7 linked regions of the Homo sapiens genome follow. The protein of the gene in region 1 interacts with the protein of each later gene in a pairwise test. Each region holds a gene or a part of one and is shown in the gene's direction. Other genes may lie near its edges. The genes, in order: NME7, PAX4, TUFT1, MAP4K4, CCDC136, CCDC33 and TRIM48.

What was found.
Region 2: the proteins of NME7 (region 1) and PAX4 interact in a two-hybrid assay, tested with the Homo sapiens proteins (one large-scale study listed by BioGRID).
Region 3: the proteins of NME7 (region 1) and TUFT1 interact in a two-hybrid assay, tested with the Homo sapiens proteins (one large-scale study listed by BioGRID and IntAct).
Region 4: the proteins of NME7 (region 1) and MAP4K4 interact in a two-hybrid assay, tested with the Homo sapiens proteins (one large-scale study listed by BioGRID and IntAct).
Region 5: the proteins of NME7 (region 1) and CCDC136 interact in a two-hybrid assay, tested with the Homo sapiens proteins (one large-scale study listed by BioGRID).
Region 6: the proteins of NME7 (region 1) and CCDC33 interact in a two-hybrid assay, tested with the Homo sapiens proteins (one large-scale study listed by BioGRID).
Region 7: the proteins of NME7 (region 1) and TRIM48 interact in binary tests that used the Homo sapiens proteins (3 or more experiments, as listed by UniProt).

Annotation. Positions count from the first base shown.
Region 1 is NC_000001.11:169,356,885-169,361,297, reverse strand, and holds part of NME7 (nucleoside diphosphate kinase homolog 7), read left to right. Parts: intron 1-4,413. UniProt on the Homo sapiens protein: Possesses an intrinsic kinase activity. Displays 3'-5' exonuclease activity with a preference for single-stranded DNA. Does not seem to have nucleoside diphosphate kinase activity.
Region 2 is NC_000007.14:127,615,317-127,620,421, reverse strand, and holds the start of PAX4 (paired box protein Pax-4), read left to right. Parts: upstream 1-2,279; 5' UTR 2,280-2,460; intron 2,461-3,021; 5' UTR 3,022-3,147; intron 3,148-4,394; 5' UTR 4,395-4,493; coding exon 4,494-4,506; intron 4,507-4,890; coding exon 4,891-5,021; intron 5,022-5,105.
Region 3 is NC_000001.11:151,556,809-151,561,221, forward strand, and holds part of TUFT1 (tuftelin), read left to right. Parts: intron 1-600; exon of another isoform or gene 601-1,183; intron 1,184-4,413. UniProt on the Homo sapiens protein: Involved in the structural organization of the epidermis. Involved in the mineralization and structural organization of enamel.
Region 4 is NC_000002.12:101,868,707-101,872,206, forward strand, and holds part of MAP4K4 (mitogen-activated protein kinase kinase kinase kinase 4), read left to right. Parts: intron 1-915; coding exon 916-1,091; intron 1,092-1,588; coding exon 1,589-1,709; intron 1,710-2,787; coding exon 2,788-2,979; intron 2,980-3,500.
Region 5 is NC_000007.14:128,819,299-128,823,543, forward strand, and holds the end of CCDC136 (coiled-coil domain-containing protein 136), read left to right. Parts: coding exon of another isoform or gene 1-13; exon of another isoform or gene 14-1,746; intron 1,747-2,500; coding exon of another isoform or gene 2,501-2,792; 3' UTR 2,793-2,832; downstream 2,833-4,245. UniProt on the Homo sapiens protein: May play a role in acrosome formation in spermatogenesis and in fertilization.
Region 6 is NC_000015.10:74,330,024-74,334,094, forward strand, and holds part of CCDC33 (coiled-coil domain-containing protein 33), read left to right. Parts: intron 1-165; coding exon 166-331; intron 332-639; coding exon 640-728; intron 729-957; coding exon 958-1,089; intron 1,090-1,179; coding exon 1,180-1,273; intron 1,274-2,655; coding exon 2,656-2,822; intron 2,823-3,197; coding exon of another isoform or gene 3,198-3,299; intron 3,300-3,857; coding exon 3,858-3,944; intron 3,945-4,071.
Region 7 is NC_000011.10:55,260,332-55,265,374, forward strand, and holds the start of TRIM48 (E3 ubiquitin-protein ligase TRIM48), read left to right. Parts: upstream 1-1,823; 5' UTR 1,824-1,936; coding exon 1,937-1,980; intron 1,981-4,568; coding exon 4,569-4,983; intron 4,984-5,043. UniProt on the Homo sapiens protein: E3 ubiquitin-protein ligase which promotes K48-linked polyubiquitination of protein methyltransferase PRMT1, leading to PRMT1 degradation.

The DNA of each region.
Region 1 (4,413 bases):
TCTTGTTTAGTAGGAAACAGTGGTATTTGGAGAACGGAATAGTAAGTGGTTAATATAATGCCATAATTTTTTTCATGTAGCTTTTTATTTATTTTTGCTTTCCTTTTTCTGCCTTTTTATTCCCAATTCTTTCTCATTCACCAGTTATTCTTCTATTCGAGAAAGTATTTATTGAGTACTTTCCATATACTGGTAACTGGTGGGTATACATTGATTAATAAGATAGCACACAGTGGCCCCTAACTCATGGAATTTATGGAGAAAAACAGATATTGGAAAATAAATTACAAGTATAAGTTGGATTACAAAAGAAAAATGACAAGGTGAGGTGGAAGTTAGTAATAAAATAGAGTGATCTGAACTAGCCTGGGGTGGTGAGGGAAAGTCTCTTTGATGATAAAACTCTTTAATTGTTTTTTTCCTTAGTTTGAGAGAAAAACAGTTTACATGAATAAATAAACGAATGATGACCTCATATGATGATAAGTACTATGAGGAAAATTAAACTAAGTAATGCAATATTGGTTGGTTCCAAGAGCAAGTAGCCTTGAGTAGGACAATCAGGGACGGTCCTCATGAGGATGTGACTTTTAAGCTGAGATGTCAATGATAGAAAGCAGCTTGCCAGGTGAAACCTAGGAGAAGAGCATTCCAGGCAGAGTCAATAGTGAGCACAGAGGTGCATTAGAGGAACAGGAGGGAGATAGTGTGGCTGGGGCCTAGGGAATGAGAGGACAGCTGGAGGAGAAGAGATCTGAGAGGCAGGAAGGAGCCAGGAATACTGAGACTTATGGAACTTGGGAGGGATTTTGGATTTTATTCTAAATGCAGTAGTATTATACATCTTATATATTTTACCTATTCCATCAAAATATTTTATTTTCCTTGGATTTGCCTTAAACTTTTGCCATATTAATTTGGTCTCTTGGTGCTTATTTTTATCTTATCTGTAAAATTTATGATCTTATAAGCTTTGGGAAATATTTTTCTGAGCTTCTTTTGTCTTTGAACTTCAGAGACTCCTAATTTCATCCCTTATAGTTGCCATTTCATAATTTATTTTCCCATTTCTGGACTTATTTTTTGTTTCTATAATATCTACTCTAAGGTGTGGCGAGCAGAGCTACATATTCCAGATGGGTATGCATTATAGTTTCAACATGGGAGTTATGTTTGCTGCTGTGATCTTCACCTAGTACCTTTCTTGATGCTGCTATAGCATATGATTGAAGTATCTTACTTTCCAGAAGTATCTCCAGCATTCCCAATGAACTTTGTATTCACATTTTTTTCAAAAACTGCCTAAACTTCTTCACTTCCAAAGTTGTCAATATTTAAAACTTTCTGTTAATTAGATGTGAGAAACTGTAGCTATTAAAATGTACTGCTTAATTCACATTTATTTTCTGATACTGGACACTTTGCCTTAATAAGTTGCTGTTGTTCTCTCTCCTGACTCATCTTATGTGCTGTGCCTTCTTCATATTTCTATACTCTTTAAAATGTATCTTCATATGCACACATAATGGCTCTAGAGCTCTCTGATAGATGTAAATTCAACTTTTATCCTTTGTTTTCCATAGTTTCAATATTTACATGATACATATATATGCTATATATGTTTTATATATGTTTATAAAGATATTTAACTTATTCTGTTGTAGAAATATAGGAAAATTACTTAGTCATTTTTAGAAATGAGAAAATATAAAAGTAAAAGTAATAAAATTACATTTATCTATAATAACACTGCCTGTATACAATCGCTATTAATATTTTTGTGTAATATCCTGGTCACATATATACTCATACATATATACACACACACACAGAGATACATATCCTTTAAAATATGATTCTATTATATTCATTGTTTAGAAATCTGTTTTATCCCACTTAATATATCTTTTGCATTTTTCCAGATCAGTTTTAAGAACTACAGCCAGCCCTGGGTAGCCATGGGTTCTGCATCCAGATTCAACCAATTGAGGATTGAAAATATTTGAAAAAAAAAAATAACAATACAATGATAAAAAATACAAATAAAAACAAAGCACTATAACAAGTATTTACATAGCATTTGCATTGTATTACGTGTTGTAAGTAATTTAGAGATGAATTAAAATATACTGGAGGATATGCATAGGTTATATGCAAATGCTATATCATTGTATGTAAGGGACTTGAGCGTCTAAGGATTCTGGTATCTGTAGGAGTCCTGGAACCAATCCCCTGCAAATACTGAGGGACAGCTCTACGTTTTATTCTTTCATTTACTCTGATTTAACCAATCCATTTATTAATTTGTTCTGTTAACACAATACTAACATATTTTTGCGAACACATTTTTATAGACATCCATAATTATTTCCTTACAATAAATTAAAAAGGAAATAACTAGGTGCGAGAGGTCATGTGCATTTTTAGGCTTTCAATATACATTGCCAGACTACTCCCAAAATAGTTTTGCCAGTGAATACTCTGCTAGCAGTATACCATGGTGCCTGTTTCTTCTAAACTCTAAACTGGTATTTCTATACATTACATACATATGTCTAACAATAGATTTGAACTTTTAATAAAACTGTCACCTGCTTTGCTCAGAATATTGAGAGAAATATAAATTACTGTATGTTCTATAGATGAAAGGCACTGTTAATACTTACCTACAATATTTCTTTGTAATTATTGTTTTACATCTATTATAAATTGTTAAAATTCAAGGTTTATTGTCTGACTGTAGTGAAGAATATTAAGTTGGCCTTTTTTTAACTATTATTTGTAGACAGATTTTCCAGTCCTCTCTTGTGTACTTATTTTCAAGATGTAGCTTGTTGAAGTACAAACAAACTGATGTAGAGCTAGAAATCTAAAATTTCAGTCTTTATTCCAGTCCTGGCTTAAGCACTTATGAGCTGTGTGTTATGTAATCTTTTTGGATAGTTATTTTCTCATCCATAAAATCAAAATAATACTTTCTGTTTAGATTACCTTAAAGCATTTTTTGTGAAGATCAAATAAGTTAATATGAAAGTAATTTATAAACTGTAATATACATATGAAATGTGTTATTTTCATATTAACCAGATTGCTGCCTAATGAGAAGATAGTTGAGGAAAATGGAAGAGATTAAAATATCAACCTTCAAAAATAAATATTTGAGGTTAATGGTGTTATGCAATTTTGTGGCTATTGAAAAATTTACTTTTATATATTAAATTCCCTCTTCCTAAATTTCTCTTATAGATTCATTTTCCTAATGGAAATAAGAAAAAGCTGGTAAAAGGGAGGGAAATGGCAGAGATTGGTCTTGAGACCAGTTTCAATAATGGTCATATACTTTTGTGGATAGGGGCAGCTAAACATGTGTGATATGTATTTAGCAGGTATTAGGTGTGAGATCCCTGAATATCTACTCAATTTAAATGGATTAGCTGGGAACATTTACTTTTATTGCTGGTCATGTGAGATTTTATTATTCAGTAATTTGACTGTGAAAGTACAATGAGACCGTTCAGACCCAGTCTGTTTCTTGCCACTTAGACTCAGAAATTCGGCTCTGGAAAAACTGAAAATCCCTTCATCTAGTGGCAAGTACAGTTTTATCATTTATGTTAAACCATATTGCCTTTTAGGTACCTTATTGGATTTTACTGCATGCACTGAGATCTCTAAAAGGTGAATATCTGTCTATCTTAGATATCTGAATATTTTTCATAATTAAAAATGTTCAAGTTTTTATGCAAAGAATGAATGGCTTCTATAATATTATGATCACTTTTTCTAGCATTTCCACATAAAAATTAGTATTGGCCTGATGATTTTATCTTGTCTCCCAATACCCTTAACACCTAGGTTGTGGCATGCATTATTAGAACACTTCTAGAATCAAACTTGACATAATAAGCATTTATATTCAGATATAGAGCAGAGGCTCTTGAACTCATCTTTCTGCCCACTTTTGGGTTCTTGCAACATGCTATATATATGAGATACAAAGATGAACAAGACTAGATTTCTTTTTTAAAAAGCTCACAGTCTTGGAGGAAGAAAAAAGAGAAGAAGAGAAATACATGATACACTGTAACATTGTAATACTAACTTAGAGAAATTCAATTTCTTCATTTGTAAAATGAGGATAATAATAATAATAATAATACTAGTTCCCTTATAGGGATATTATTATAATTAAATGATAAACTGTTTAGCCCAATGCTTTATACACTGTAAGCATCCAAAAAATGTTTGCTGTTATTACTGTTACTACTGCTGTTGTTATTTCCAAGTGTTAAGATAGAGACCTACTGAATGTGGGAACACAGAAGAGAGGCTAATGACTGAAAGAACGCTAATTAAAAACAAGATTAGTTGACTTTACTGCTTTTTCTCTGCAATTTTTCATTCACTGAGCTT
Region 2 (5,105 bases), on another chromosome or scaffold:
GCCTACGAAAATGCACCATAGGGAGGGGTGGAAACAGCCTAGAGCTGGTGTTACCTCCCACAGCAGGTGTCAAGAGCCCAAGACGAGGTGTCAGACCAACGCCAGCGGGTCTCTGCGCTGGCCGCGCCCAGTCCTCTCCAGCTTTACGCACGGGCTTGGCTCGCCCTCTGGTCCCTTGAGGAAGGCAGGGGAACTCCAGCCGCCTTTCCTGAGGACAAGACTTCCCTACAGACACGGGCCTTTCTACCAGGGACTCCTAAGGGCAGAAGAAGCCGGAGATCAGGGCTCTACATCAGGGCGAGGGACAGGCTGGAATGGCCATGGCTGGCCCCGGAGAGGGGCGCACAGCTTGTTGGCGGGTGGCAAGACCTTTGAGTTAATGTATAATTGTGAGCAGATGGCGGGGGCTGGCGGCAGCCCGGGGCCTGGGCCCAGCTAATGAGGGACAATTAGCCCCAAACCCGGTGGGGGTGGCTGAGAGAGTCAGACAGTGAAGGCAGATATTTGCTCCTCAAACAGTCTAGCGCGCTGGGCAGAGGGCTGAGTGGCAGAGCCTTTGGGCTCTCTAGGCCCCCCTGCCAGGGCCCTTTACCACTTTTCCCTCCCCCATCACCTCTGGGTCGAAAGCCTCTGTTTGTTCAGACCCAAGAGCGCGTCATAAAGGCGGAGGGAGAGGGTAGTTTATGGGGTAAATCGCTGCCACCACCATCTGCTAGGGCTTGTCCCTGCTCCCCCTGATACCCCTATCTCCACCCTCATGCAGCTGTCTATAGGAATAGCTGGTCAGGACATAAGCCTTGAGCCCCTAGACGCAGGGGCAGATCTAGCGGGGAGGGATGAGGCAGGAATGGGGGACTAGGAGCAGGGCTACCACAGGCCTTACTGGGGACCTCCTCCCACCCAAGCATGGCTAAGTAGAGTGACCAGCAGTCCCCAGCTGCCCCGGGGATGGAATGGGCTGTAAGGACACTTGGGCAAATGCTATCCTGCCCGAGGTCCTGAAATCACCCTCTGCAGTCTCCCCTGTACCCCAAGACCAGTCTGAGGATGCTGGAGGAGGGTGGAAGAGGAAGAGAGTATGTATCAGGGTAAAGTGGAAAACTCACTTATGTGATATTTGGCCTTTGAGAGCAAGAGTTCCCAACCCTAGGATCAAGCTGAATGCACAACAACCACTTTCACCCCCAAAACCTCAAAACATTTACCAATGACATACGTCTTCCATTCTCTGATTTCTGGGACTAGTCTTATTGCCCTACACCCTGCTTACTTCCAGTCTAACTTTTGCAATGGTTTCACAGACTCTGAGGTGTGGAATGGACCCAAAGACCATCTGCCCAAGACCCTGATGACTGGCAACAAAATTTACATGCACTAGAGGCTGTGTTTCACTTTCAGCATCCCACTCCACAGGCACCACCTGCCCAGCTACTGATACCTCTGACCTCGCCAATGACCCAGATAACCTGTGGTGTCTTTTGTGGAAACAGCAGTGCCATTACTAACTTAGAGTCTAAAAGCATCAAATCCCTAACAGAATGGAGCCTGCTAACATCTAAAGATGGAAGAAGGAAAATCCTGCTGCAAGCCTCCTTATAAACACCCACATGCATCTCTGACTATCCTGAGGCTCATTTCCACCACCACTACCATTGTCAGTGTTCTGAAGTCCAGGATCCTTCCATTTCCAGGCAAGAATTCACCCTTGGTGTCACCTCAGTCAAGGAGTCAATTGGAGAATTGGTTAGGACACTCTCTGGGGACAGCTGGTGCTAGGTGACACACACTCTTCACACTCTTCTCCATTCACTCTCATTATCTCAGAGTGCTAGGAGCCAACTCAGTCAGTATTTAGGCAACAGTCTGTATACTCATTTATCTTTTATAGCAACACACACGACTCAGGAGTTGACCCCAAAGCCCATGTATGTGCATTCTGGCTGGGAAGCTGTGTTGGTGGTTCGGGAAGGCATCTTTTTGCTTCTGTGTATTCAAAGCCTTAAGAACACAACCTGAAGTTCCCCATCTTCCATGCTCAGCATGCCCTTCAGGAGTACTGGTGCTTGTGTGGGTACACTTTTGCCTGTCTGAGAATGGCTCTGTCCCTGCTTCCGGGTGGTAGGTGGACACAAAGTGGGCTCTGAGGATTCCCCATGGAAGGACACAGTGGGTCATTGGCTGTGGTTTGCCCTGCCTCAGGGCTGGTGTCAGTCAGCCCATGCACACCTCCCTCCTCCTCTCTCCTCTGCTCATGGCCTGTGACATCACTGGCTACTCCCAGAAGGCTGCCCTCTGCTCTTGAGCACGGGCTCTCTATAGCTCTGGACCCCCTGGCAGGACTGAAGCAGGAGCAGAGTGGAGGCTGTTACCAAGACCAGATCATCACCACCCCTGGAGCCTGCAGGGGTCTCAGAAGCTGAGACCTCCCACTGAAGCTCCCACCTCATTTCCTCCACACAGGTAGCTCACCTGCAGGCTCATTGTCTGCCCTGCCTCTCATGCTGTCTCCATGCCTCTGTGTGGCCAAACCCAACTTCTCTCCCACTCTGCCTTTGCAGCTACAACCCTCCTGCCCCTTCCACCCCCTTTCCTGTTTTTCCATCTTGCAAGCACCAGTTATTTTTTCAGACATGTTAATATGAATGTTGGGAATGTGTGTTGTGGCTATTGGGAATGGGGTTTCTGTTTGTGAGTTGGGGCATAATGATTTAGGTTTGGAGATTATTTAGGTTTGGATACTGAACCTGCATCCCTACTGCTCTTTTGAATTCTGGTCACTTAGGAGAACTGAGTCCCATCAAGGATTTAGGGTTTGGCTGATATTTTGAGCTCCTTCACCCTGTCTTGGCACAGCCCTTTACAGTCCCTGCTTGATTCTCCTCTCTCCATTGTTTTTGTGGCAATTACACAAACATGAAACAGGGGTGGGAGCAGAGAAAGAGAGCCCAGGATTAGGAGCCAGAAATTGTAGCTTCTGATGAGGAACTGGCTTCTAAACCTTGAATTTTACTCTCTGGACAGCCCCTGACTTGTGGCAATGCCAATCTGTGCCTCAGTTTTCTCTTTGGAAAACCTCTGCCTTCTTTCCCGACTTTTTGGAAAGATGAGAATTTGAAGGGGTCTGTGCCTCTACCTACCTAGAAACAAGTGAGTAAAAGCCAATTTAGCGACTGAACTTAATAAGTAGACTCTGGATTCCAAACTCTTTGTAATTCTTTGTTTCACTGGTGCTAGTCTCTTTTCTCCAGTTGCTCTGTAATGTGTTGGAGAGCAAAGACTTTACCCTTTTCTGTTTACTGCCTTCATCCTGAACAACCAGCAATGTGCTCATGCTTAATATCTTATTCAGCATACAACTGCAGATGAATTAACTAAGCCCAGATGGCACGCTTATTATAAGAAAGTTCTGTGCATAAGCTGTTCCTTGGGGTGATCTCCAGCACTACCAGGGTTCCAGGCATGAAAGGAGGCATCTTCAACTCCCATTGATTACTAATGAAAGTAGAAGAGGTATGGTGGCCTGTGGGACCTGTGTCCCTTGCTGCTCAGAGACTCGCTTGGGCTCATGACGGTTTCTATGTTGCTCAGCGGACAGTCTTCTCCTGCTTCTCATTCCCTTCAATATGCCTTTGATAAATGTTAGTTGAATGAATGAGTGTCTGATACCAGAAACATCGTCTCTGAAATTGAAGCTTCACTGTGAGATCTAGAACTCTTCAGAGAATGAACAGAATGAACAATCTCAGCAGGTTAGAGATGCTAAGAGATGCGTCTCCTAGGAGAAGCCGGCTCTTCAGGCGTGTTCATCTCTATGCCCAGTGTGTAGGACCAGAGCCTCAATGCCTGGTGGGTTAGAGCTGAGTCCCAGTTTCCCTAGAGCTTCCTGGAGAGTATAAAAAAACAGGAGCAAGCCTTTCTGAAGTGCAGCATTTGGGTGGCAGTTTGGAGAGCCCAACCGAGGACTGCCTAATAGTGAAGGTGGACCCCTGAACTTGAGGACCCCAGAATCTCTGGCTCGGGTGTGTCTTCCAGGGCTGAGAAGGCTTAGGAGCAGCTGGAGACAACAGCTGTCCATTTGGAAAGGGGAAAGCTTGAGCATTTGAAAGCATTATCCCTTTCTACCTCCCCAAACTTTTCTAATGAATGTGTAGGAAAGGAGAACCCTCTCAATCCTCCCAGCCCCTTATCAGGACTTCAAGAAAGATCCAGTCCTCAGCCAACCTGCAGTGTTTTAGTTTTTATCACACAAAGGTTTAAATAAAAGGAATTAGAATTTTCTGATTTTAGCCAACCCACTGGCAAATTTTAGGAACCTGACCCTCTATCACAAAACACTACCTCCCAGGACCATTTCAAGCAAAAGACCTCACCCAAATAACCCCCCATTATTGCAGAGCCAGCCCCCAAGCTGGAAAAGGAGCTCCTAGAAGGAACTTCCCTTCCCAGCCTTCCCAGCTGGAGTCTCATCCTTCTGAGGAGGGTCAGCCTGGAGCATGCATCAGGACGGTGAGGAGCCTGGGGGAAGTGGGAAGACAGGGAGGACAACAGAGACAGGGGAAGACCTCAGGGCTTTGCTTCCATCAACTGTTTCATCTGCTATTGGCCAATGTTCTGGGGAAGCTTTTTCCAGTCCCTCCCTTCCTGCCCTGTCCTGCTTCCCTTAGATCAGGAGAGTTGGCGGGTATGGGCAAGGAACAAAGACTCACCCGTGAGCCAGCTCTCAAAGAAAGCAGCTTGCGTTGACAGCCTGGGGGCAGCAAGGATGCAGTCTCCCAGGAGAGGATGCACTCGGTGGTGGGAAGCCAGGCTGGAGGGGCCTGAGTGACCCTCTCCACAGGCGGGCAGGGCAGTGGGAGAGGTGGTGTGTGGATACCTCTGTCTCACGCCCAGGGATCAGCAGCATGAACCAGCTTGGGGGGCTCTTTGTGAATGGCCGGCCCCTGCCTCTGGATACCCGGCAGCAGATTGTGCGGCTAGCAGTCAGTGGAATGCGGCCCTGTGACATCTCACGGATCCTTAAGGTAATGGGCCAGCACCTTTACCCAGTGATGGGGACAGGAAGCAGGGAGAAAGGGCTCCTCTGAAGGCAAGAGCCTGGGGCTGTT
Region 3 (4,413 bases), about 18 Mb from region 1:
ACATATAAAAATTAGCCAGGCATTGTCACGGGAGCTTGTAATCCCAGTTCAGTTACGTGGGAGGCTGAGGTAGGAGAATTGCTTGAACCTGGGAGGCAGAGGTTGCAGTGAGCCGAGATTGCGTCACTGTACTCCAGCCTGGGTGACAGAAACAGAATTAGTCTCAAAAACCAAACAAAATGCTGAGATTACAGATGTGAGCTATGATGCCCGGTTCTGTTTTTCATTTATCTGTTTTCTTTTTCCTGCCTTCCTGTGGATTAACTGAACACTTTTTAGGATTCCATTTTTATTCATTTATAATGTTTTTGAGTGTTATCTCTTTGTATAGACTTTTTAGTGGTTACTCTAGGTATTATACATTATGTATACATAGGTTATCACAGTCTCCTGGTGTTGGCATTTTACTAGTTTGAGTGAAGAAGAGAAACCTTTCCTTCCTTTACATCCCTTTACCTTCTCCCATTTATGATACTAAATATTTAATAGTATAATATTATCATATTTAAATATTTTCTCTGCATACATTTAGAACCACATCAGACATTGTTATACTTTTTGCTTTAATCATCAAATGTAACTTAGAAAACCTAAGAGGGGCTTTCCAGCCCCAGCCCCGGCCCCTACAGCCACCGAGATGTTGATGCCTAAGAACCGGATTGCCATTTATGAACTCCTTTTTAAGGAGGGAGTCATGGTGGCCAAGAAGGATGTCCACATGCCTAAGCACCGGGAGCTGGCAGACAAGGATGTGCCCAATCTTCATGTCATGAAGGCCATGCAGCCTCTCAAGTCCCGAGGCTACGTGAAGGAACAGTTTGCCTGGAGACATTTCCACTGGTACGTTACCAATGAGGGCATCCAGTATCTCCGTGATTACCTTCATCTGCCCCGGAGATTGTGCCTGCCACTCTATGCTGCAGCCGTCCAGAGACTGGAAGTCCTCAGCCTAAAGGTCTGAAGGGTGAGCGACCTGCAAGACTCACAAGAGGGAAAGCGGACAGAGATAACCTACAGACGGAGTGCTGTGCCGCCTGGTGCCGACAGCAAAGCTGAGGCTGGGGCTGGGTCAGCAACCGAATTCCAGTTTAGAGGTGGATTTGGTTGAGGATGTGGTCAGCCACCTCAGTAAAATTGGAGAGGATTATTTTGCATTGAATAAACTTACAGCAAAAAAACTTAAAAAAAAAAAAAGAAAACCTAAGAGGGGAAGGAAATCTTGTTGTATTTACCCATCTTTTTTCAACTCATGTTTCTTTCTTCCCATTATTTCAAGTTTCCTTTTTTTAAAAAATAATTTCCTTTCTGTTTAGAGAACTTTTTAAGCCATTCTTTTAGTGTAGGTCTGCTGGTGAGAAATTCTCTTAGTTTTCCTTCATCTGAGAATGTCTTGATTTCCCCCTCATTTCTGAAGGATATTTTCCTTTGTTACAGGATATTTTCCTTTGTCAATTCTGAATTGACCGTTCTTCTCTTTCAGCATTTGAAAAATAGTATGCCACTTCCTTCTACTCTCTGTCATTTCCGAAGAGAAAATAACCTTTGAGGGATCCCCTCAAAGGTTATTTTCTCTGCTTTCAAGACTTTTTCTTTGTCTTTAGTTATCAGAAATTTAATTATGATCTATCATGGCATGAATTTCATGTTTATTCTGTTTGAAGTTTGCTTGGCTTCTTGAATCTATAGATTTGTGTCTTTTGCCAAATTTTGAAAATTTTTGGTCATTATTTCTTTGAGAACATTTTCAACTGACCCTCTTTCTCCTCTCTACCTGGAATTCTGATGGCTGGATGGAATCATCTCTCAGTGCCCCAACCCAGCCTAGTTGTCTATGCTCTTCCAATTGGAATGCGTAGGTTTATGAAACAGACCAGACTTGACCTTCATTAGCTAATAACCCCTTTGTTCTGACTGAAGGATGCCCTGCCTTTTCCCAGCCTGCCTCCATAGAACACTATGGGGAGATAGTGTCCTTTTTTTTTTTTTTTCTTTTTGAGACGGAGTCTTGCTCTGTTGCCCAGGCGGGAGTGCAGTGGTATGATCTTGGCTCCCTGGAACCTCCACCTCCTAGGTTCAAGCGATTCTCCTGCCTCAGCCTCCCTAGTAGCTGGGATTACAGGTGCCTGCCACCACAGCCAGCTGAGTTTTATATTTTCAGTAGAGACGGGGTTTCACCATGTTGGCCAGGCTGGTCTCAAACTCCTGACCTCAGGTGATCCACCCACCTTGGCCTCCTAAAGTGCTGGGTTTACAGGCATGAGCCACTGCCCCTGGTCGAGATACTGTTTTAATAAAAGTGCAGGTATGTCCTGGGAAGGAAGAATTTGGCAGCCATTCTGGCTATTTTGAAATCATTTCCTCTTTTTTCTTTTGTAATATTTTCTTGACCTAGATGTCATGGAGCATTCTCTGTGCATTCAGAAAATACCTTTGCTAAGGGCTGTGGCATACAACAGCTCTTGAGGAGTTAACAGAAGGGGTAATTCTTCACAAAACACAAATAACTGAGAGGCAGATGCCATGGGAGGCCTTGTGACGCTGTGGGAGCTCAAGGAGGGGAAGATGTGTTTCCCACAGGATGCGGGGTAGCATCTTGGAAGATGAGGCATTTGAACATGAACTTGAGGAACTTGGAGACGCCTTAGGTGAAAATGGGAAGAATAGATATTTAAGGCACAGGAAATGATGGGAGCAAAGGCACTGAAGTTGGAAACCATGGAATGTATTGGATAGGGCACTGAGAGATGGTAGCAAGAGGTGTGAGTTTACCCAGACTGTGGAAAGCCTTGCATGCCACTCTAAGGATGTGGCTTTTATTTCATAGGAATTAAGTGTTTTCATAAAACCAGCTACTTTGCTAGGGTTGGGAAGGTTTAAGGGCCATTGTGACAGTGTCTTCTGTCTTCCCAATCCAAAAAGTGGGAGGATGCTGATGTTTCAGTGCCACCCTCCTGTGTGGCAGAGAGTAACCTCCATACATTTTCTCATTTTCTTTTTCTTTTTGAGACAGCATCTCACTCTGTCGTCCAGGCTGGAGTGCAGTGGCGCGATCTCAGCTCACTTTAACCTCCGCCTCCCTGGTTCAAGCGATTCTCCTGCCTCAGTCTCCTGAGCAGCTGGGATTACAGGCGCCCACCACCACGCCTGGCTAATTTTTTTGTATTTTTGGTAGAGATGGGGTTTCACCATGTTGGCCAGGCTGGTCTCGAACTCCTGACCTCAGGTGATCCTCCCACCTCGGCCTCCCAAAGTGCTGGGATTACAGGCATGAGCCAGCACACCGGCAATATTTTTAAGTAATATTCAACAAAAAAACCCTCAGTTGGGGGCCGGGTGCGGTGGCTCACGCCTGTAATCCCAGCGCTTTGGGAGGCTGAGGCGGGAGGATCACAAAGTCAGGAGTTCGAGACCAGCCTGGCCAATGTGGCGAAACCCCGTCTCTACTAAAAATACAAAAATTAGCCAGGTGTGGTGGCAGATGCCTGTAATCCCAGCTACTTGGGAGGCTGAGGCAGGAGAATTGCTTGAGCCCAGGAGACGGAGGCTGCAGTGAGCCAAGATCGTGTCACTGCACTCCAGCCTGGGAGACAAGAGCAAGACTCCATCTCAAACAAACAAAAAACCCTCAGTTGGATGGTAATATACCCCTTTTACAGATAAAAACATCAAGAGTTAAGTATCTCACCAAAGACTGATTTCTTCTCCACCAAGTTGGAACGTTATCTTCTCTAGACATTTGGAAGGTTAAGAGGGTTCCTTAAAACCTGTTACCAGTAAGATGTCATTTATGCAGCTGGGCCTCAAGGCAGGGGATGACCAGATGACCTCAAGATCACTTTCATTCTTGGATAGCCCAGCACCTATTTCTCTTCATTGTCTGGGAGAGGCATATACTCCATCCTCACGCTGTCACAGAATGGAATCCAGAAGGAGCCTGAGATATACTTGGTCCAACTTCCTTATTTTTCCAGTGGGAACCAGAGATCCATAGTGGCTAAGCCCCTCATTCACTTCCATGCATAGTGCAGGTGATTTACTCTGCCTTGTTAGCCTTCTCTCAACGTTATCATCTTCCCAATCTACAGGCCCTTACTTTTCCCTCCTACCACGTTTTTCCTTTCAGGTTTTTAATTTTCCCTGCAAAGTATTGTGTGTGTGTGTGTGTGTGTGTGTGTGTGTGTGTGTGTGTGTGTGTGAGTGTTTGAGACGGAGTCTTGCTCTGTCACCCAGGCTGGAGTGCAGTGGCACAATCTTGGCTCACTACAAGCTCCGCCTCCCGGGTTCACGCCATTCTGCTGCCTCAGCCTCCCGAGTAGCTGGGACTACAGGCGCCTGCCACCACGCCAGGCTGATTTTGTTTTTGTATTTTTTAGTAGAGACGGGGTTTCACTGTGTTAGCCAGGATGGTCTCGA
Region 4 (3,500 bases), on another chromosome or scaffold:
CTCAGGGTCGCAGTGTCTCTTCATGTGTCACAGACTTGTCCATGAATGTGGCAGGTTGTGAACAGTCGGTGAAGTGAGATGTCAGTGGCATCCTAGTGCTCACTTCACTCCTTTCATTTTAATGTAGGTTTGAAGTTTTTTTTTTTTCAGTATGAGGTAAAATTCTAGATCAACAAATGTATATACACAGATCCTTGAGCTTTGGTGTAAAGACACATGTCTATATGACAAAGTCTTCTTTAAAGGGGTCAGTCCAGAAAGCAAGCCTCTAGTTAAATAAGCCTGATTTAAAGAGTTTTGGGAGGGAAGTTATGTTTCTACAACTTTTATTAATAAAATATTAAACCTAAAATGTTGATTTTAGTAAAATATTAATATTTATTACTAAAATTTCATAAATATCCTATAACTAGTAAATAAAAACATTAAATATTAAACCTTAGCGCTTTGAAGTTTTTAATAATAAAAGTTGAAGTAAAATAAAAATGTGTCTCTCAAAACCTTTTTTATGAGTCTAAAGAAGACTTTGTCATGTAGGGAGATCTCCTTACAACAAAGTCCAAGAGTCTGTGTATATACATTTGTTGATCTAGAATTTTACCTCATATTAAAAAACAACAGTAATACTATCAGCTTAACATAAGCAGATCTTTTTTTTATTGTCATGGGATTTGAACTGTATATGACATCTTTGACTTTTTTTTGGTGTCTTCTATTTTTTTTTTTTAATCTCTCTCTTGACTTTATTTGGTCTTTTCTATCAAAAGCCATAGGAGCTCACTTTCTCATGAAACTGGGTAACTATAAAAGTCTTACAAAACTGACATTGTGGCAATTTATGGTTAAAGAACTTCTCATCTTCTCCTGTCCCTGCTCCTGCTTGCCTTACTCTCTCTTTTCTGTCCTTTGCTTTAGGATCTGACCGCACTGGCCAAAGAGCTTCGAGCAGTGGAAGATGTACGGCCACCTCACAAAGTAACGGACTACTCCTCATCCAGTGAGGAGTCGGGGACGACGGATGAGGAGGACGACGATGTGGAGCAGGAAGGGGCTGACGAGTCCACCTCAGGACCAGAGGACACCAGAGCAGCGTCAGTCCCCGGTCTCTTTTAGAGCGGATGAGAGTATTCTCTCAGAGCCTGCTTTCCACTGGGACCTAGTTGTTCCTAGACTATTCCGTGACCCCATGAGCACTTACTATGTAGTTCTCGTGGATTCAGCAGCAGGTCGCCTTGTGTTTCCCCTTCTCTTCGTTGGTGTGTGCATATGTCAGTGCTTCCCCCAGCACCCCAGCGTGTACTTTATTTTTTCCTTTTGATTTGAGGATATATGATCCAGGGGAAATTTCAGTTTGGTATAACTACTTTAATTAGCCATAATTATTCATTCTAAGTTTTTGCTCAGAAACAAATGGCACTGGAAAGAAATTCTTTGTTAAAGGGAGAAAGCTAAGCAGTTGCTTTTTTGGAGGAGGCTTTATATCGGTAGCCTCATCTCATGTTTTGATTTTGAGAAGGCGAAAAGCCTAAACAGGATCTCCTTGACTCCAGAGATTAAGGCCTTTCACGTCTGGATTTTTTCTCCATAGGTCATCTCTGAATTTGAGCAATGGTGAAACGGAATCTGTGAAAACCATGATTGTCCATGATGATGTAGAAAGTGAGCCGGCCATGACCCCATCCAAGGAGGGCACTCTAATCGTCCGCCAGGTACCCGTGTCTTCTCTGTTGTCAGAGGCTGAGCTTCTCCTGTGGTCATTAACCCACTTGCTCATTCACTCACTCATGCTGTTTCTCCATCATCATCTGTTTTCATGTTAACAAGTCCCAGAGGGTCAAGTGTCGAGTGTCGGGGGCTAGGGAGGCAGGTGTGTACTGCATGCCCAGAAGGTAGCGAGTAGTCTCCACCCCACATCGCTGCTCCTCTGCATGTCTGCGGCAGCCCTCATTCAAGCACCGCGCTGAGTCTCACAGTCTATGTCTGAGCGGGAGAGAAGCCACAGGGAGTCCTTAAACAGGCTCACAGAGTGAGGAAGCAGGTCTGGAGTCTGGCAGAGCAGCCACCATGGCTCTGCAGAGCACGCTGGGCTCTGAGTGTCTGCAGTGCCACAGTGGGAGCGGGTGAGGCAGGCAGGACGAGCCTCATCACAGGCCCAGAGACTCGGAGAGCAGAAGGGTTCGGGAGGTTTCTCTTCTATGTTCCAAAATGTTAGTTTTCTCACTTGTTGAATAATTAAATGTGTGCCACCCAGATATGCTCAGTTTGGATCACTAAGCTTTATAACTGTCTGTTCATTTCTTAGCTTAGACTTAATTAAAGTGATACGCTTCTCATTTAAATAGAACAGGGCACCTATTTAGTATTTTGGACTTTGCCCTAAGTGTGTTTCATGCTATGGCAATGCATTCGGATGGAAAGTAGGAAGAATGTGGAAAAGACCAGGATTCAGAGAATCCACAGGTACTTTCTGGAGCTTTGCAAAGAAAGATTTAAAAAGAAAAAAAAAAGGATACTGGTTTTGGTAACAGAAGCTAGCGCAACAGATAAACCAGATTAAACACTCACTGCTCGAGCCGTGCAGCCACCAGATTAGGTACTTTGAATTCTGTTGGCACAAGTTAGGCATTTGGTGAGGAAGTGTGAGCAGTTCAGGCTAATTTCTTTGGTTTTTCCTTGGTAATTTAGCAGAGTTTATAAGTCACACAGCACCTTAAAGCAGTTATCAATAGGGCCATAGGCAATTTTAGCAGCGCTTGAGCGAGACAAGTGTGCCTGTTTTTTCTACAGAGTACAGTTGACCAAAAGCGTGCCAGCCATCATGAGAGCAATGGCTTTGCCGGTCGCATTCACCTCTTGCCAGATCTCTTACAGCAAAGCCATTCCTCCTCCACTTCCTCCACCTCCTCCTCCCCATCCTCCAGCCAGCCGACACCCACCATGTCCCCACAGACACCCCAGGACAAGCTCACTGCTAATGAGGTATGTCTCGCACCACAGCTGGCTGCTTTCCTGGGGTTAGACCAGCACTGCCTAGGAGTTAGTTTGCAAAGGAGACCTTTCCAACACCCTCACCCCTTCCCTTCCCACCCTGCTTTCTCTGTCACCTACCCTTCTCCCCAACCCCAAGTAACATGTTTCAGATCTGCATATAAACCCCTTAACCCTAGATCAGCTCCCCCAAACTTGCCAGTTCACTGTTTACTGTTCTGTAGATAAGTATAGTTGCATGGCTTTATCTAGTTTATTTTTTAAAAATCTAAATAAAATGATTGCTCTGTCCTCAGACCGGTATTATGTATTTGGCATGAAATTCTTATAGTCATTTGTGGAATCTGCCTTTTTCATTCTTTTTATCCAATAAATAAAATATAGGAAGATTCGGTTCAGCAGGCTTGGCCTTATCTGGACAAACTTATTATCCTGTACAGGAATCTCTTTCAAACAGAACTGATTTTTTTTTTTTTTCTTGTTTGGGGGGTGGGTTGTTGGCTGATTACTCT
Region 5 (4,245 bases), on another chromosome or scaffold:
AGCCAGGACCTGAGGGAGCACAGTGTGGTAGAAAGCGTGGCTGCCAGGCGGTCAGAAGAACTTGGTTGAGTCTGTCTCTACTGACAGGCGTTGTCCCAGGGAGCAAAATGCACACTCTGAGCTCTAGTTTCTTCAAATGTAAGCAAAGGATGATCGAACCTCTGCCCTCCTCACAGGTTTTTGTCAGGACCAGATGGGTTGAAGTAGATGAAAGTATTCTATAAATTATAAAATACCCCATCATTAATAAAAAGAGCACGCACTTACAAAATGCAGTCTTATGTGTCAGGCACTGTTCTAATCACTTACGTATATTAACTGATTTAATCCTTGCAACAACCCCATGAAGAAGCTACTCCTATTTTTTTTTATATATGATTAAACTAAGGCATAGAGAAGTTAAGTAAAACAGCCAGGAAGCTGCGAGTCAGATTATAAGGACTCAATATTAGCAACAAATAAGATTCCAGTCTTGCTTCCCTTTATTGTCTCTCCTCATTTTGAGCAGTTTCTCTTCATTGGTCCCAAGTAGGAAGACACCATACTTGTGTTTAGGCAACCTCAGATCACATTAGCTCTTTAGGTAACTAATATATTATTTATTTATTTCATGTATTTTTTATAAGCCCCTCTGCAGATTGTGTATGCTAAGCGTCCTCTCCCCATTCTGTACCTGCATTTGATTTTGAGGCTTCAAAGGCAGAATTTTCCATTCTTCCCTATTATAGTTCATTGTTCTTACCTTATAAGGTTTTGTGTGTATGTGTTTTTAATCTTGACCCTGTGGTTTTAAAATATTCACTTCCTCTGCCACCTTCACATCATCTACAGGGGTGGCAAGCCCTCCTTCCCTGTCTTCATCTACAGAGGACAGAGTGAGGACAGAGCCTCTAGAGTGTCGTCTCTTGGGGTTCTTTTATTCAGCTCATTGGTCACTTACCTGCCATTCAACAAACTGTACTGTCATCCTACCCTTATTTCTGCATATTATCTGCAAAGATCATAGAAAATTCTGTCAAACAACTCAACGTCCAAAAACATGATTCCGGTGATTTGTCACTTAGGTCACCTAGTTTAAAAGGAGAGTTTGACACGACTTCCCCTTTGGGACACCCACACCAGCCCTTTCCCCATCCCATGTAGAAGCTTGCCTTTGCCCAGTGTGAGGTGCACGGGTCACATTTAAGGATTTCAGCTCCTCCCTCCTTTAAGAACACCAGACTAACATTCTTAGCAATGCACATTAGGATAGAGGCATCTGAGCATATAAATATTTTTTTCTAGCTAGCTCCCTTCTTAGTTTTTGTTTTTGGTTTTAGAGACAGGGTCTCGCTCTGTCACCGAGGCTAGAGTGCAGCGGCATGATCATGGCTCACTGTAACTTTGAACTCCCGGTCTCAAGCGATCCTCCTCCCTCAGCCTCCGGATCTCTTGGTTTTCTTACATGAGTTACTCTGTATATCCACCTGTAACATTGCTTGGCTTTCCATTTCATACCTTCTGTTGTTCTTAGTAGCTATTTCTATAAGCTCAGGAGATTTTCTTTGCTCTTTAGCAGGCTTAAAGTCCTCTTTTTAGATCAATTATCATCTGAGAAAATGTGTTCTTAGCATTAATGGGCTATATTCCATTTTTACTTGAAACCATCCTTCTGTTACCTATGCCATAGCTTATGACTCAAAATCCAAATTCTACCTTTCAGTTAGTAGAGTAAAAAAGTAATAAAAATAAAACCTATTTCCCCAAGTATGTATTTTCTTGTCTAAGATTTTCATATTACCTAATGGATGCTTTTTGGATATCTTCGATGGTGCCACTTGTCCCATGAATCAGCAGGGTTCCCTAGTGGCCGGCAGTGTCTGGAAGCCTCAGCATACTCTAGCACATGCACCAGGAAGTCAGTCAACATACCTGGTGATTAGGAGTGTTCTAATGACCTAGGCCCAGTGACAGGTTTCCTTAAATTTCCTTGAACCAATGTCATTCTCTGTCAAAGTTTGTCTGCCTAAGAACCTCCTACTTACCTGCACTCCGTGGTGCACTTTCTTCATTTCCCCTCAGCCTTATTCCCCCTTCCCCATCCTCTTGACTCTGAGTTCACTTCACTGCAGTGAAACTAATGAGGTGCTGCTGCTTTTCTCAAAGCCCCAGATTTCCCCTCCTCTTTCTTGCCATGGCATCCAGTCCTTTCTCATTGCAACCACTTGGAAGTCTGGCCCCTGAGCCTGCTTCTTCACATGGGAGCTAGTATTCTCAGCCCATGGGGAGAAACGGAGGCCTGAATACAGGCGGTCACCTAAGGTGGTGCGTACAGTGTTGGGCCACATGTCTAGTGGTGCCAGGACTGAGAGATCACTTACCTCCACCGGTTACCCAGGAGGTAACAGAGACTGATCCACAATGTTCCTGAGGTGTCTTGGGCACCCATAGGCAGGTGACTTCTGGCTTAGGGCAGGGTTCAGGAGGCTGGGCACTCACAGTTTCTCTTTGGTCCCCACAGAACATGTTTGGGTTGTGGAAGCCTATGGTATTCTTGGCTATTGCAGCTGTGGCTCTGTATGTGTTACCCAACATGCGACAGCAGGAGTCAGAGTTCTGCCTCATGGAGTGATGGCAGACCTTGGCCAGCGCGAGGGCAGATCCCCAGTGGCCACCACCCTCAGCTTTGGGCAGGACACACTGTGCCAGAACCCTCCCCATATGTTCCATGTGTCCCCATCTCCTCAGCCTCAGTCACCCAGGCTGAAAAGGCTTGTGGGGAGCGGCTGACTTCCATCTCCTGCCTTGTGTAAGAACCTGAGTTCCTTGTAATTAAATATCAACTGAATTACATGAGACTGTGGATTTTTATTTGCTAAATGCCTCACAACACAACCAGAACAGAGCAGTCCCCCTTTAACCAAGTACCTCACATAAGGGTCTGACTCCTAAATGCGGCTTCTCACCTTGCAGATGGCCTCAGAAATGAGGCTAGCCCCTTGTGCTGTCGACTGACTCACAGAGGGGTTAGTCTGTGCTTATTAACCCCATCCTGAGGTGCTCTCCTGAGCATGGAGAAATGGAGTGACTGAGGGCTGGGGAGACCTCCCCTAAGGTTCTGTGCCCACACCTATCTACATGAGAAGGCCGCCCTAAGAAGATCCACGTGTGTGCCTTCGTGACTTAGCCTTTGTGACTTCTCAAGGGATTCGCCCTCAGAGATGACTTTAATCAGCCAGGGTCCTGGCAGTAAACAGGTGGCACACTCAAAGCTTTACATGAAGAGAGTTTAATGAAGAGACTATGTACCAAAGGCAGAGTTAGGAGAAGCAACAAAAAATAGTGAAGTACCAGGCACTAGCAACAGTGTAAAGCTGTTAGCATCCCAGGCTGAAGCAGGAAGGAAAGGAAGCAAGAGCTGGAGCTCTGAAAATGGGCCCCAGGCAGGAGTGGCAGCCACATGGGGTGCAGCCCCCGCCAGAGCCGTGAGGAAGTGGGATATATATTCCCCTACCTTCTCCTCCCACCTGCCAGTATTCTACTGGTACCTTATCAGCTGAACTCAATGGGAAGACAAAGCGCAGAGGTGCCCAGGTGATGTAATCTTTCAAGCTCAGCCTCCTGGAGCTTAGAGCAGGACAGAGGCCTGAAGATGGATCTAATTGGGACAAGTAGAATGATGAGGATAGTTTATGTGTGTTCCTGTTTACCTTCATTCCTGTGGAACCTTTGTGATTGGAGTTTATCATCATGAATGTTTCCTTACGAAAGAAGACCCCAAGCGTATTCTTTTTATTTCTTTCTTTTTTTCTTTTTCTTTTTTTTTTTTTGAGACAGGGTCTCACTCTGTCACCCAGGCTGGAGTGCAGTGGCACCATCTTGGCTCACTGCAACCTCCACCTCCTGAGCTCAAGTGCCTCCCACTTCAGCCTCCCAAGTAGCTGGGACCACAGGCATACACCACCATGCCCAGCTAATTTTTATATTTTCTGTAGAGACAGAGTTTCACCATTTTGCCCAGGCTGGTCTCAAATTCCTGGGCTCAAGCAATCCTCCTGCCTCAGCCTGCCCAAAGTGCTGGGATTACAGGCATGAGGCATATTGCCCAGCCCCAAGCATATTCTTAAACCATAGTGGAAACAATGACCCCATGACTCCTGGCTTTCTTTGGACCCCTCTTTCTTCCTCCCTCCCACCCAAAAGGACTTTGTTCCATTCAATCAAACATCCAAAGAAACACATGTACAGAGTGTATACTGTGGTAGC
Region 6 (4,071 bases), on another chromosome or scaffold:
CATAACCACCCTTCCAGGGAGCTGCTAAGACTTAGGGCCATGGCTTGGGGCTCCTGGTGCTCACTGGCCTTGTGGGGGACCCACTGACTTTCAAGTGTAGATGTGGATGTGGGACCAGGGTTGCTATGGGGCAGTGGGCTCAGCTCTGGGCTCTGGGATCCACAGGAGATGAACAACTACCGGCGGGCCATGCAGAAGATGGCAGAGGACATCCTGTCTCTGCGGAGACAGGCCAGCATCCTGGAAGGAGAGAACCGCATACTGAGGAGCCGCCTGGCCCAGCAGGAGGAGGAAGAGGGGCAGGGCAAAGCCAGTGAGGCCCAGAACACGGGTGAGGATGTGCAGGCCACCAAGGGCACCCGGGCTTCTGCCTGGGCCCAGGCTCCAGGTTGTGCAATAGGGTGGCTGGGAGCTTCTCCCAGATGTGCATGCTGCTGGACTCTGGCAAATAGGAGCCCCTCGCCCACAGACACTCACACAGTCCCTGCCCAGCTGGGTCCTCTCAGGGATGGGAAACAGAGAATCCAGTCCCGTCCCAAGCCCTCGGGCCAAGGGATATCTGCCTTCCTGCTACTGACCATGCTGATTTGAGCTGGGAGAGGCTTCCTCCCTGAGCCAGCTCCCCAACCCACCTAACAGTGTCCATGAAGCAGAAACTGCTGCTGAGTGAGCTGGATATGAAGAAACTGAGGGACAGGGTGCAGCATTTGCAGAATGAGCTGATTCGAGTGAGCTGGGGCTTGTGGGGGCAGAGGGGAGGGAGCTATGGTGGGGGAGCATCGGGGTGAGAAGAGTCTGGGAGGAGAAGGGAGAACAGGCACAGAGGGAATGGAAGCACGGAAGAAAGGGGGACCAGCCTGGTGGAGGATTCAGCAGAGGGGCCGAGGTGGACCCTCAGGGCCAAGGTGGACTCCCAGGCACCCATTCTCTCCCCTTCTCTCCTCCCCCATCTCACAGAAGAATGATCGAGAGAAGGAGCTGCTCCTTCTGTATCAGGCCCAGCAGCCACAGGCCGCTCTGCTGAAGCAGTACCAGGGCAAGCTGCAGAAGATGAAGGCGCTGGAGGAGACTGTGCGGCACCAAGAGAAGGCAGGTGGCAGAGGGGCTGCCCCCGAGGCCAACTGATGATGGCAGAGTAGGGAGCCCCTGGGCCAGCCCAGCCTCTGCTCTGCTCTCCAGGTGATCGAGAAGATGGAGCGGGTGCTGGAGGACAGGCTGCAGGACAGGAGCAAGCCCCCTCCTCTGAACAGGCAGCAGGGAAAGCCCTACACGGGTGGGTCCACACCCTGATGTGATCAGCTCCCCAGCTTCTGCTCCACCCCTGGAGGCCCTGCCTTCCTGGAGCCTCTCAGCTTCAGGAGAACCTGCGAAGAGGTCCCCTGCACTCAGTTATGTCTGTGGGCCTGGGAGACCCAGGATTGCCCTGCTCCCCTCCTCATTCAGGCGCCCCATCCAGAGATCCCCTGAGCTCCCTCCTTCCCTGGAAGCCCCTCAGAACACAATTGGGATGCAGTGTGAGCCAGGCTAGAAAGAGGGTGGACCTCCAGAGGAGGGCCCTGCAGACTAGCACAGCAGAGAGGGCCTTCCCCTGAAGAAGGGCCACCTGGGGCAACACTTCCCAGCTCCTAGCCCCAGGATCCGTCGAATTATTTCCCCATACCGCCAAAGATTCTGCCTCTGCAAAGCAAACAAACAAAAATACTTTGATTAAATCAATGATCTGGGGCCAGGCGCAATGGTTCATGCCTGTAATCCCAGCACTTTGGGAGGCCGAGGAGGGCAGATCACTTGAGGTCAGGAGTTCAAGACCAGCCTGGCCAACATGGTGAAACCCCATCTCTACTAAAAATACAAAAATTAGCTGGGCATGGTGGCGGGCACCTATAATCCCAGCTACTTGGGAGGCTGAGGCAGGAGAATCACTTGAGCCCAGGAGGCAGAGGTTGCTGTGAGCCAAGATTGTGCCACTGTACTCCGGCCTGGGTGACAGAGGGAGACTCCGCCTCAAAATAAATAAATAAATAAATGATTTGGAGGTTTTCTTCCCCATCGATATTAACCAAAAGCCACCTAAAACTGCCAATCAGCCTCTGATAAGCAGAAAGGACCAGGTAACACCATATCAGGCCAGCCCAAAGCAAGGGATTTCCCTGAGCCTGCCTGTGCAACCTCACCCAGGGCCCCTGTGTGCCCAGCCCTGTGCTTAGCCTTCACCGCTGAGGGTCTCAGGGGCAGGAGGGTGTTTCTAGGAGCCTTTAGAATGCAATGAAAGCTGGGCTGGCCTTTCAGGAAGCCTGAGGTCATCCAGGAGTCTGGATGAGACTGAGAAGGCAACCTAGGGAGGGGAAACAGCCAGATCAAAGGCCCAGGGAGTGAGAAGAATTCCAGGATCAGAGAAGGGAGGAAGAGAGAGAGGTGAGGAGCTGAAATACACTGAAGACAAATGAGGAGTTAGAGAGAACGTTGAGGTCAGGTTCTAAAGAGCCTAGAAGGACAGCCTGTGTGCACCTGATCCCACTGGTGGTAGGGAGCCATTGAAGGCTTGGGAGTAGAGGGGAGGGGTGGCAGATTGAAGCAAAATGCTGGAGCAGATCAGGACAGGGACATGGGAAGCAGGAGAGCCCATCTCACCAACATCTGTGGCCGTGTCTCTAGGCTTCCCTATGCTCTCAGCCTCTGGCCTTCCCTTGGGTTCTATGGGAGAGAACCTGCCGGTTGAACTTTACTCGGTGCTGCTGGCAGAAAACGCGAAGCTGCGGACGGAGCTGGATAAGAACCGCCACCAGCAGGCCCCCATCATTCTGCAGCAACAGGCCCTGCCGGTAAGAGGCCCTTGACCTGGGCCTGCCTATGCCGGTCACTGGGTGCCCAGAAATCACCCATGGTACAACCCAAGTTGAAGATCAAGACCAGGAGCTAAGCTTCCCAGGGTCTCCAGTCTGCCTGGGGGCTCCTGGAATCAGCTCTCAGGCCTTGGTCTTTTTCTCCTGCGGAATGTGTGTCCCCGAACACTTCACCTTTAACCTCATCTAGCATCCCAGGAGAAAGCAAGCCCCTTGTTGACCCTTGGTCCCTGAACCCTGACCCCTTTTTCACCTGGCTGGCCTCCACCTGGACCCTACACAGGCCTCTCAAAACTCCCTTCTGGAGCATTCCCTGGTCTTGGTGCAGCCTTGGAGAGCCCTTTTCCATCCCAGGTGGACCCCGGGGAGTTGGGAGCAGGAGGAGACTTGACAGAGAGGCTACAAGAGACGCATGGCCCAGGCCACTCAGAGTGCACAGAGACCCTGCCCGCACAGGTGGGTGGCCCAGGGCCCAGAAATGCCCAGGCCCTGCTCCACCTCTGAAGATGCTTCAGGGGCCCCTTGCTTTACATAAACCCCAAAGCAGAACATTTGGAATCACAGAATATTGGGCAGGGCAGGGGCACAGGAGAGTTTTCTCTCCATCCCAGGACTCGCCGGAGGTGAGTTCTGTTGAAAGCACACCTGACTCATGGACATCCAGGTAAAGTGTGAGGGATGAGGTCAACTGCCTCACAGGTTCTTCACTTCACTCAAAGACTCCCAGTGCGTTAATTATAGGGGGCTCCCTAATGCATTTTACATTAAAAAAAATGTTGTGTCAAAACTTCGTATTCTCAAAATCTGTGTGGGAAACAGCTGTGAAAAAAGCACATGCCAGACCCTGTTCTGAACTTCCAGAAGAGGGTTCGGCCCAGGTCTGACGCTCTGCCTCGGGAGCTCAGTCTGAACTCAGGCCTGACTGGTTTCTTCCTCAATACCTTATGGTTTCCCAAGCTCACACTGCCACAGCCTCCAGCTGGGGCCAAATGTGAGTTTGTGCTTTGCCCACAGGATCTCCTCTCTGGTACTTCAGACAAGTTCAACCTCCTGGCCAAGCTGGAACACGCTCAGAGCCGGATCCTGTCCCTGGAAAGCCAGGTGGGTGAGATGCAGGAGTTGATGAGGCTGGATCAGGCTCACCACACAGCCTATAACCAGGGCTCAGTGTGTGAGCAGAGTCTAGGCTCAATCTATGACCAGGATCAAGGCTTAGTGTGTGGCCAGG
Region 7 (5,043 bases), on another chromosome or scaffold:
CTAATTGCTGGATGAGGCTGTGCTGCTGCAGCCAACTGTCTGGCCCCTGAGCATTACATCCCCGTACTCCAGGCCTTTATTCATCACCAAAACAGCATGGTACTGGTATAAAAATAGGCACATAGACCAGTGGAACAGAATAGAGAACCCAGAAATGAACCCAAATACTTACAACCAACTGATCTTTGACAAAGCAAACAAAAACATAAAGTAGGGAGAGGACACCCTATTCAACAAATGGTGCTGGGATCATTGGCAAGCCACATGTAGGAGAATGAAACTGGACTGTGTGGCATAGACAAACTTTCTTATTATTATTCAATGAAACACTCACGTAGGACCTACTGGGAAGGTATTTTGCAGAGGTAATGAAAGGTCCTGCTCTTGTAACTAGCAAGTGTATTCAGGTAAGCCTGACTTCATCAGTGAAAGTCCCTTAAAGAAAGACATAGGCATTCCTTGAACAACATTTAAAATAGCGAATGGGACTGTAATCTTCCAATTGCCCCCTACTGACTTGGGACCAAAGCTTTGAATCATGATCACTGGGATCCAGCCAGCTGAGGATTTTTCTTCCTAACTGACTTTAACAGGGATCTCATACTTGCTCAGGCATCCCATCAACTGTGGAAACCAGTTCCTTGCACTTAATTCATATGTGAATCTCCCTAAGTATACATATATATTATGGGTTCTGCTTCGATTTTTGAACCTTGACAGACTTTTTGAACCTCGACAGACATAGGGCTGACAGATTTGTCTTCACTGTTCTGAAACTCTTGAATATAAGTCTTGTGGGGGCTATTGGCAAAGAATTCCTCTGTCAGAATATATTTGAGTAGCCGCTTCTGAAATCTCTTTTCTTTTTTAAATTGTCACATGACAACAAAAATATTTGTTATAGAAAGAAAAATATAATCCATCCCTATCGTTTGGATTCTGTATTTGTGAATTAGCCTACGTCCTAAAACTTGTTTATAATCCCCAAATTAATTACTATATTGCATTTCTAGTCATGGCAGAACATCATGCACCATGTGGAGAAAAGCATTAAAATAATAACTCGTATTTCACCCACGAGATTGGCAAAGTTTTGTAAATTCAATAAGAGACCTCAAATTAGTAGAGTTATTTGGTTAGTCAGTGATTTCTCTTAGAGTGGTAGAAAACAAAAAAAAAAGTTTTACCTTCCTGTTGGACTTCTCTTCCAATATCCTATAAATGTACTAAAGCAGCATTTAAGGCTGGACGAGGTGGTTTATGCCTGTACTCCCAAGCACTTTGGAAGTCCAAGACCAGAGGATCACTTGAAGACAGGAGTTGGAGAACAGCCTGGGCTACAGAGCCATACCCTGACTCTATGAAAAGTTTTTAAAAAAATTAGCCAGGTGGGATGATTTGAGCCTGTAGTCCTAGCTACTTGGGAGGCTGAAGAAGGAGGATCCCTTGAGCCTTGGAATTCAAGGCTGCAGTGAGCTATGATTATACCACTGCACTCCACAAGGAGACAGTTTCTCTAGAATAAATAAATGTGCCCTTAAAGGAATGCCTGTATCTTGGATGAAGCTCAATAAACAGTATAAAATGCATCTTATTTAATTTGCAGTGTATGTCAAATCTGATAGGATTTATGTTACATATGATTCATTTCAGTCATGGTTTTTTAAGGAGTGATGATAATTTAATCAGCCGTGCAAAGGTGTGATCTAAATACTGCATAAACCTAATCATCTTATTCTCAACCTTTCTCAATACTCCACCCACTTAAAGAGGTGGGTGTGGTCTTCACAGATTCTTATAAAGGACATAGAAGAGACAAGCTCAGTTTTCTCCAAAGGAGAAGGAGTGCACTTAGAGGGAGCTGTGTTTTGGTGACCTCTGAAACTCAGTACTGCAGCGAATGAGCTCCTGACCTTGAGGAGTACTTAACAGAATTATGTCTCGAAGAATCATTGTGGGAACCCTTCAAAGAACCCAGCGGTGAGTGAAACTTATATTGATAAAATTATATCTTCTTTCCTTTACAAAATAATAAATTAGAGTGTTAAAAATATCTCATTATCTTAAATCTACACAATGATACCATCTGTAATTCATATTCTTACTATAGATTTTATGAATTATGAGGATATTAATTGTTGTTATTTTGCATTTTCTATCATTCTTCAATATAGTTTTGAAAAAATGAAAATATCTAGTGTTTGCTGCAACAGATATGTATGCATAATGAATATATGGAGTTGATATTTATACATGTATGTACACATAGGTGTGTGTAAATATATGTGTAATGAGTGTATTAATATTATACAATTGAATTGAGAAGACATTAATGAATGTTCATTCATTCATTCAGCATTTACACATAACTTTAAATTAGTAAGGTAATGATGAGAGATGAAAAATAGTGAAACTGAAAAAAATGAGAAAGCTCCCCAAAACATCCCAGTTTGGAAATCAAAACACAATTTTTTGACCAAATAAATATATGATATAATTTGATATGTGATGGTGGTTGCCATCTCACTTGAGTTTTAATCTTATTAAACTATGAAAAATTCCTTACAATGACTTAGATGACCTCTGGAGAATATTTACAATTCTAAGATTTTTCATTGCTTTCACTAAAATTCAGCAGCGTTATCAAATAAAGGAGAGTAACGAAAAGGACTTAAAATTGCCAAAGACCATAGTTTATATATTAGTCAGGGCTCTCCAGACAGACAGAATCATAGGGTGTATATGTATACATGTAGAGATACATTCATGAGCCATTTCAGTCAACAACAAACCACACATGGTGGTCACATAAGATTATAATACCAGTATGTTTACTGCACCTTTTCTGTATTTAAATGTTTACATACTAAATAATTACCACTGTGTTACAATTGCCTAGAGTATACAGTATAGAACACGCTGTACAGTTTTGTAGTCTAGGAGCAATAGGCTGTACTGTATACCATAGGTTTGTAGCAGGCTATACCATCTAGGTTTGTAAAGGTAGATTCTATCATGTCAAAACAATAAAACAATAAAACCTAGGCGCAGTGACTCATGCCTGTAATCCCAGCACTTTTGGAGGCCGTGGCAGGCAGATCACTTGAGGCCGGGAGTTCAAGTCCAGCCTGGCCAACATGGCGAAACCTCATCTCTACTGGAAAAAAAAAAAATGAAAAAATTTGCCGGGTGTAGTGGCATGTTCCTATAATCCCAGGAACTCAGGAGGCTAAGGCAGGAGACTCGCTTTGACCCAGGAGGTGGAGGTTGCAGTGAGCCGAGATTGCACCACTGCACTCCAGCCTGGGTGACACAGTGAGTCCCCACCTCAGAAAGTAAATAAATAAAGCCTCCTTACACATTTCTTAGAACATATATCTGTCCTCAAGCTACACATGATTCTACACGAGGGGAATTCATCAGGAAAATTCGTTTGCTTGATTATGGAGTCTGAGCAGTTCCAAATATAGGCTGTCTTTAAGCTGATGTAGTGAGGATACTGGTATCTTGACTGATCTCAAGGCTGAAAGCCTCAGAACCAGCTTCAGGAGAAAGAAAGAGGAAATTGCCTTTCCTCTGGCCTTTTCCTTTTATCTGAGCTACAAGCTGATTGAATGGTACCCACTCAAACTGAGGGATGATGGTCCCACTCAGCTCACCAACTCACATGTCTCTCTCCTCCGGAAACACCTTCACAGACCCACCCAGAAACAATGCTGCACCATTTCCCTGGGTGTTGGTTAATCCAGTCAGACTGATACCTAAAATTCACCATCACACCATGGAAATATAATTACACCTCTTTAAGTTTAACAAAAATCCTACTATATGTTAGTTCAGAGTTTGGGTATCCCTAGGAGAAGTTAATTCAATCCAAGAGAAAATAAAAAGGTCCGATATCTTTAATGATTTTTTCTCTTCTATTCAACCTAAATTGGTTTAATTGCTGTTTTTTATTTGTTTATTTGGTTGGTTGATTGGTTTTTCTATTTCGCTTTGGATTTGGTTTTTTATTTTACTTTAATTTTATATTATTTTCAGTCCTGAGATAAACGTGCAGGACATGCAGGCTTGTTACACAGGTAAACATGTGCCATGGTGGTTTGCTGCCCCACTGTTGTGTCTCTCTCTCAAAATATATCATAGGACCCTCTAGCCATCTTCTCGTATTTCTTTGGCCAAGACAGTTTTTCCCACTCTTTCACACTCATTCGGCAGTCATATGAAAGAAGAATAGGAACAACTACAATTTATTCTAGGCTACTTAGAATCAAACCCAATTTCCAGATCCACATTCAGAAAAAAATGGGAAATTGAATAGATTAGTATTATGTTACAGACAGGCACTAGGAGTAGAAGGGGTTGTGAGGCATCTAGTCAGTAATATCTATTATAAAGCCGGGAGACTCTCTGTGTGAGATTTTTATTTTTGTTACAGAAGAAATAGTTTGTTGTGCTTTAATGAACACTGTCAAGAGAAGAAACTATAGCTATCACTTATCTCCACATGTTCAGAAGCTTTTCATCAACCCAGACCCCAAAATGACATGCTGCTCTTTCTTCCTCAGAAACATGAATTCTGGAATCTCGCAAGTCTTCCAGAGGGAACTCACCTGCCCCATCTGCATGAACTACTTCATAGACCCGGTCACCATAGACTGTGGGCACAGCTTTTGCAGGCCCTGTTTCTACCTCAACTGGCAAGACATCCCAATTCTTACTCAGTGCTTTGAATGCATAAAGACAATACAGCAGAGAAACCTCAAAACTAACATTCGATTGAAGAAGATGGCTTCCCTTGCCAGAAAAGCCAGTCTCTGGCTATTCCTGAGCTCTGAGGAGCAAATGTGTGGCATTCACAGGGAGACAAAGAAGATGTTCTGTGAAGTGGACAGGAGCCTGCTCTGTTTGCTGTGCTCCAGCTCTCAGGAGCACCGGTATCACAGACACTGTCCCGCTGAGTGGGCTGCTGAGGAACACTGGGTAAGTGATGCCTCTGAAGATCTATTTCTATAAAGGACACATGAAATTCCTGTGGCCCTA